Regions from separate parts of the Homo sapiens genome. Here region 1 is linked to region 2. The links come from fine-mapping of genetic effects on gene expression. A gene starts in region 2. The other region holds a variant in brackets. All regions are shown on one strand. Distances are from middle to middle.

Evidence for each region.
Region 1: its variant is fine-mapped to the expression of CASC8 in transverse colon (GTEx, PIP 0.93).

The regions. Positions count from the first base shown.
Region 1 is chr8:127,431,919-127,434,827 of GRCh38, reverse strand. All of the region lies in intron 4 of CASC8 (cancer susceptibility 8), which reads left to right. Among named protein-coding and RNA genes, the nearest start is that of POU5F1B, 18 kb to the right of the region's middle. RefSeq lists an enhancer at 1,698-2,612. The variant C/A (reference allele first, on the strand shown) is at 1,264.
Region 2 is chr8:127,481,020-127,483,928 of GRCh38, reverse strand. CASC8 (cancer susceptibility 8) reads left to right here and starts at 1,790. Exons shown (of 6, transcript NR_117100.1): 1 at 1,790-2,295; 2 at 2,858-2,909.

The DNA.
Region 1 (2,909 bases), 49 kb after region 2:
TGGTTTTAGGACAGGTAAAATGGGGGAATTGTAAGGAGAGTTTATAGGTTTTAAAAGGCCATGCTGTAGCAGGTGAGTGATAACAGGCTTTAATCTTTTTAAAGCGTGCTGCGGGATGGGATATTGGCGTTGAGTGGGGTAAGGGTGATTAGGTTTTAATGAGATGGTAAGGGGTCACCAAGGAGGGAGTAGAGGTATCTTATACTTGTGGGTTAGGGTCGGGGGATACAAGAGGAGGACGCAAGGAGGCTTTGGATTGGGAAGAAGGGCGGCAATGAGATATAGCTGTAGTCCAGGAATAGTCAGGGAAGCAGATAATTTAGTTAAAGTGTCTCAGCCTAATAAGGGAACTGGGCAGGTGGGGATAACTAAAAAGGAGTGCTTAAAAGAGTATTGTCTAAGTTGGCACCAGAGTTGGGGAGTTTTAAGAGGTTTAGAAGCCTGGCCGTCAATACCCACAACAGTTATGGAGGCAAGGGAAACAGGCCCTTGAAAAGAAGGTAATGTGGAGTGGGTAGCCTCCATATTGATTAAGAAGGGGACGGGCTTACCTTCCACTGTGAGAGTAACCCAAAGCTTGGCGTCCGTGATGGTCTAGGGGGCTTCCGAGGCAATCAGGCAGTGTCAGTCTTCAGCTGCTAAGCCGAGAAGATCTGGGAAGGAGTCAGTCAGAGAGCCTTGGACCAGCGTTCTAGGGGCTCTGGGAGTGGCTGCCAGGTGAGTTGAACAGTCCAATTTTCAGTGGGGTCCCACACAGATGGGACACGGCTTAGGAGGAATCCCAGGCTGCGGGCATTCCTTGGCCCAGTGGCCAGATTTCCGGCACATGTAGCAAGCTCCTGGGGGAGGAGGTTCTGGAGGAACGCCTGGCCGCTGCGGTTCAGGCGTTTGGAAGTTCTTGTGTGCTGCAGATGTGGCTGGGGTTTGTCTCACAGTGGAGGCAAGTAATTGCAACTTTTTTCTATTATTGTACACCTTGAAGGCGAGGTTAATTAAATCCTGTCATGGGGTTTGAGGGCCGGAATTTAATTTTTGGAGTTTTATTTAATGTCGGGAGCAGAATGGGTAATAAAGTGCATTTTGAGAATAAGACGGCCTTTTGACCTTTTAGGGTCTAGGGCTGTAAAGTATCTCAGTATTGCTGCTAAACAAGTCATGAACTGGGCTGGATTTTTATATTTGATGAAAAAGAGCCTAAACGCTATCTGATTTGGGATAAAGAAAAAGGAGCATTAACCTTGACTATGCCTTTAGCTCCAGCCA[C/A]CTTTCTAAGAGTAAATTGCTGGGCAGGTGAGGGAGGGCTAGTCACGGAAAGAAACTGTAAGCCGGACCAGGTGTGAGGAGCGGAGGCGATAAAAAGATTATAGGGTGGAGGAGCGGAGGCTGAGGAAGAATTGGGACCTAGCTCGGCCTGGCGAGGAGGTGAGAGGTCAGATGGGTCTGTAGAAAAGGAAGATTAGAAAGACTCAGCGATGCTTGGGGTTGGGACTGAGGGGACAGGCGGGAGGGAAAGAAGGAAGATTTGGGACGAGTTGTACTGGGCACAGAGACTAGGAAGGGACTGATGTGTAAAAGAATGCCTGGACGTCAGGCGCCTCGGACTGTTTGCCTATTTTACAACAAGAATTATTTAGATCTTGCAGGATGGAAAAATTCAAAGTGCCATTTTCTGGCTATTTGGAACTACTGTCGAGTTTGTATTGGGGTCAAGTGGCATTGCAGAAGAAAATAAGGCATTTAGGTTTTAGGTCAGGTGTGAGTTGAAGAGGTTTTAAGTTTTTGAGAACACAGGCCAAGGGAGTAGAAGGAGGAATGGAGGGTGGAAGGTTGCCTATACTGAAGGAAGCAAGCCTAGAGAAAAGAGAGAGTAGAGAAATGGAGGGAAGGGGTTCGGGGGTTCTTACCTTCCAGAAAAGGGGTGGGGTGCAGAGATAAGAGGTTGGGGTGTGGAAATAAGGGATTGGGGCACAGAGATATAAGAGGTTGGGGCACGGAAATAAGGGATTGGGGTGCAGAGATACGAGGTTGGGGCATGGAAATAAGGGATTGGGACACAGAGATAAGAGGTCGGGGTGCGGAAATAAGCAACTGGGGGGTTCTTGCCCCCCAGGAAAGCAGGACTTGCCGCTAAGGGTGAAGGAGAAGGGGTTGAGGGGTACTTGCCCCTGCCCCAGAAAAGCAGAGAAGGGGTTGGGGTACTTGCCCCTTCCCCAGAAAAGCGGGACTTGCCGCTAAGGGTGAAGGACCAAGGCAGGCGTCCCTGCGTGTGGTCTGACACCCTTGAAACGTGAGTGTATAATCAGAGAGGCGTCCCTGCAAGGATTAAACACCAAGGGAAGGCTGCCTTCCCAGTCCGTGACCGGAGCCGGAGTTTTGGGTCCACGGATAAAACGTGTCTCCTTTGTCGCTACCAGAAAATGAAAGGAATTGAAATTAAGGGAGACATTGAAGTGTGGCACCAAGATTGAAAGGAGAAAGAGGTTGAGGGATAGTGAGGGAGGTTGGAGAAGAGAGTAAAAAGAGGCTGCTTACCGGATTTGAAATTGGTGAGATGTTTCTTGGGCTGGTTGGTCTGAGGACCTGAGGTCGTAGGTGGATGTTTCTCATGGAGCAAAGAACAGGAGGACAGGGGATTGATCTCCCAAAGGAGGTCCCCCGAGCCGAGCCACAGCACCAAATTTCATGCGCGTCCGTGTGAAGAGACCACCAAACAGGCTTTGTGTGAGCAACATGGCTGTTTATTTCACCTGGGTGCAGGCGGGCTGAGTCCAAAAAGAGAGTCAGCGAAGGGAGATAAGGGTGGGGCCGTTTTATAGGATTTGGGTAGGTAAAGGAAAATTACAGTCAAAGGGGGTTTGTTCTCTGGCGGGCAGGAGTGGGGGTCGCAAGGTGCTCAGTGGGGGTGCTTT
Region 2 (2,909 bases):
TAAATGTTATAAAGTGGTGAGGGGTGGTTGCTATAGACAAAAAAGTATAAGGGAGTGTAGGGGATATCAGGAGTTCTGGGGGATGATGGGATTGCAATTTCAAATGCAGAGGTTAAGATAGACCTCATTGAAAAGGTGACATTAGAGCAAAGGCTTGATGTCTATGTGAAGAGCATTCTGGACACATGGAGCAGCTGGTGCAGAGGACTGAAAGTGGAACATGGGTTGATTGTGGCTTAGCAATGAGGGGCAGTGCAGACAGAGGTGCAAAGAGGCATCAGGGGGGCCTAGTCATGAGAGGCTCTGCAGGTCATGGTTGGAATTAGATCTGGTGCTGTCCCTCTATGTTGTGGTCAGCAAGATGATTTCACCAGCAGCTTATTCAATATGCTTTCTAAGAAAATCATCATTTAACCAGTTAGTGTGGATTCTCCTGGCCAAATCCTAGTGTGCAAATATGCTGGAAACATTCAATCTTGTTTCCAGCAAGGCTTGGGATAATTTAGAAACTGTTCAATCAACTCAGTAAATATGAATTAAACATTTACAGTTGTATTAAATATTCGAAAGATAGGAACCAAAACAGTCTATCAAGTAATTGTACATATTTGTGCATTTACAAAATGCATATTCATGAGAGCTATGTAAATATATATTTAGTCATTTCCTCTTTCATGTGAAGTGCTATGGCTGAACTACAGATGGTAACTTTCTTGTGTCTGATTATGAAAATGGCACAGTAAAGCATTCTGACATTGTCCTTAGAAAAAGATCATTGTTTGGCCATTACCATGAGTTCAGTGTTCTTGGAACTAGGGAGAAGAAAGTTCTAGAACATGTCTGTTTTTGTGGCAGGCATCTAGGGAGGAAAGGCAGTTATTTCTAAGATACGTGGCTCTCATACTTTTTCCACCAAGGGTCACAAAAAGGAGGAGGTTTATGTGTAGGACATGCTGAAGTCCTGTGGGCTCTGTATTCCAGCCACAGTGCCACCCTTTCTTTCTCTGTCAGGAAAGCATAGTGGGAGGGTAGGGAGTGAGCATAATGACATTTTGGGTTAATATTTAATTCATTCTAATTTATTCAAAAACGTGTCTAACTTCTCATGATATCTATTAATACTAACATGACTGGCAACCCCTCACAACTGCCTCTGACAACTCTTGTGGGTCCTTCTGCCACATCTAAGGACTCTCTGGATAAGGAGATGGTGAGAGAACACACATTCTAATTTTGTCTTTGTGTGAAGGTCTTATGTGAAAATCTTTCTGGGAATTAGAGTTTTCTAAAGGAATCTCTATTTCCTAAGGTCCTGATACTCTTACTAGCATTTGCCAGTTAATTCTGTGAGACCCAAATGTGTGCAGGGCCTGGACACTTTATCTCATACTAGGTCTCTTCCTTAACCATCCACTATTCCCCAAATATTTACACAGGTGGACTGCGTAGTTAGACTGATATTTGTGTCAGCCTTGAAAACTCAGGATGACTCTCGAAGCCGACTGCTCATGAAGTATCGTTGCTTGGATCTCCTCTTTTGGAGACTAAGGGAGCTTGACTGTGTGCAAGTTAGCAATAAGGACTGACTACTGGATTAGGTGGACCACGTGAATATCATCTTGTGGTGGCCTTTTGGGATCTTCTGATCTCACTCAGAGTAAAAGCCAAAGTCCTCACTATGACCTAGAAAACGCTTTGTGATCTGTGCCCCCAGGTCTATGACTTCACCTCTAACTAATCCCCCTCACTTGCTTAACCTCCTTCCTCAATGGCCTCTCTGCTAGCTCCTTGAACCACCCCAGGCCCTTTGCACCTGCTATTCCCTCTCCTCAGCATGCTCTGCCCCAGACAATTGCAATGCTAACTTCTTACTTCCTTCAGGTTTCACTCAGAAATGACTTTCTCAGTGGGGTCTCCCATGACCATTTTATTTAAGATTTCAACTACTTTGCCAGTATTTCACTTCTCCTCCCTTGATCTTTTCTTCCAAGCACTCACTGCCCTCTTGCACACTGTATCTTTTACTTATTTATCTTGTTCAGTTTCTGCCTGCCTCACCTGCCTCACCACAGTGTACATTTCACGAGGGCAGGGATTTTGTCTGTTTTGTTGATTGCTGTAGCCCTGGCATCTTGGGCAGTGCCAGCACCTGTTAGCATTAAATACATATTTACTGAATGAATGAGTGGCTTCATGCTTAAAAGCAAGAAGAGAGACCTTCATAGAGAAGTAGGAAAATGAATTGTTGCACAAATAAAGGGCCATGTAATGAGAGAGAGAGAGCAAGAGAAAGAGGTGAGATGCTGATAGATTTTCCAAAAACATTCCAGTTCCTACTTCCCATCTTTCATGAACCAAGATTTTTACTTCCTATCCATGGGCTATCCCTAAAAATTCCATTTTCTTAGGCTACTGTAATAGGGCTTGTCTTTATTGCTACCAAAAATCTCTAAGCAAAAAAAAAAAAAAATAGAGTCAAACTAGAAGATGCTAATTGTTTTCTCAACATCCAGCATGTCTTTGGAGAATGGGGTTCTCATGTAGCAAACAGTTTTGTGGGTTCTCTTCCGTGTTTCCTTTCTTGGATAACTAGGTCACAGACAGCTGGTGTTTCCCATGTGGCAAAGGGAGCATGCAGAGAAATCCCCGCCTCCTCTCTCTTTGCTTTTCAAGCCCTGCTGAATGCCTCCTAATGATTTCATCTGCTCGGAGGTCTGCTGGCTTTTCCACTCTCGTAGAAGCTGGTGGCGCCGGGGGCTGATGCATGCTCTGACTACTGACTTGAAACATGCTTTGATGAATTAGTGCAACTCGGCCAGCCATTTACTTTAAATTTTACCCTTGATTCTTCCTCTAGCAAACAATTAAGGAGCAGCAGTGGCTTCCTGCAGGGGAGACCAATGCCTTCT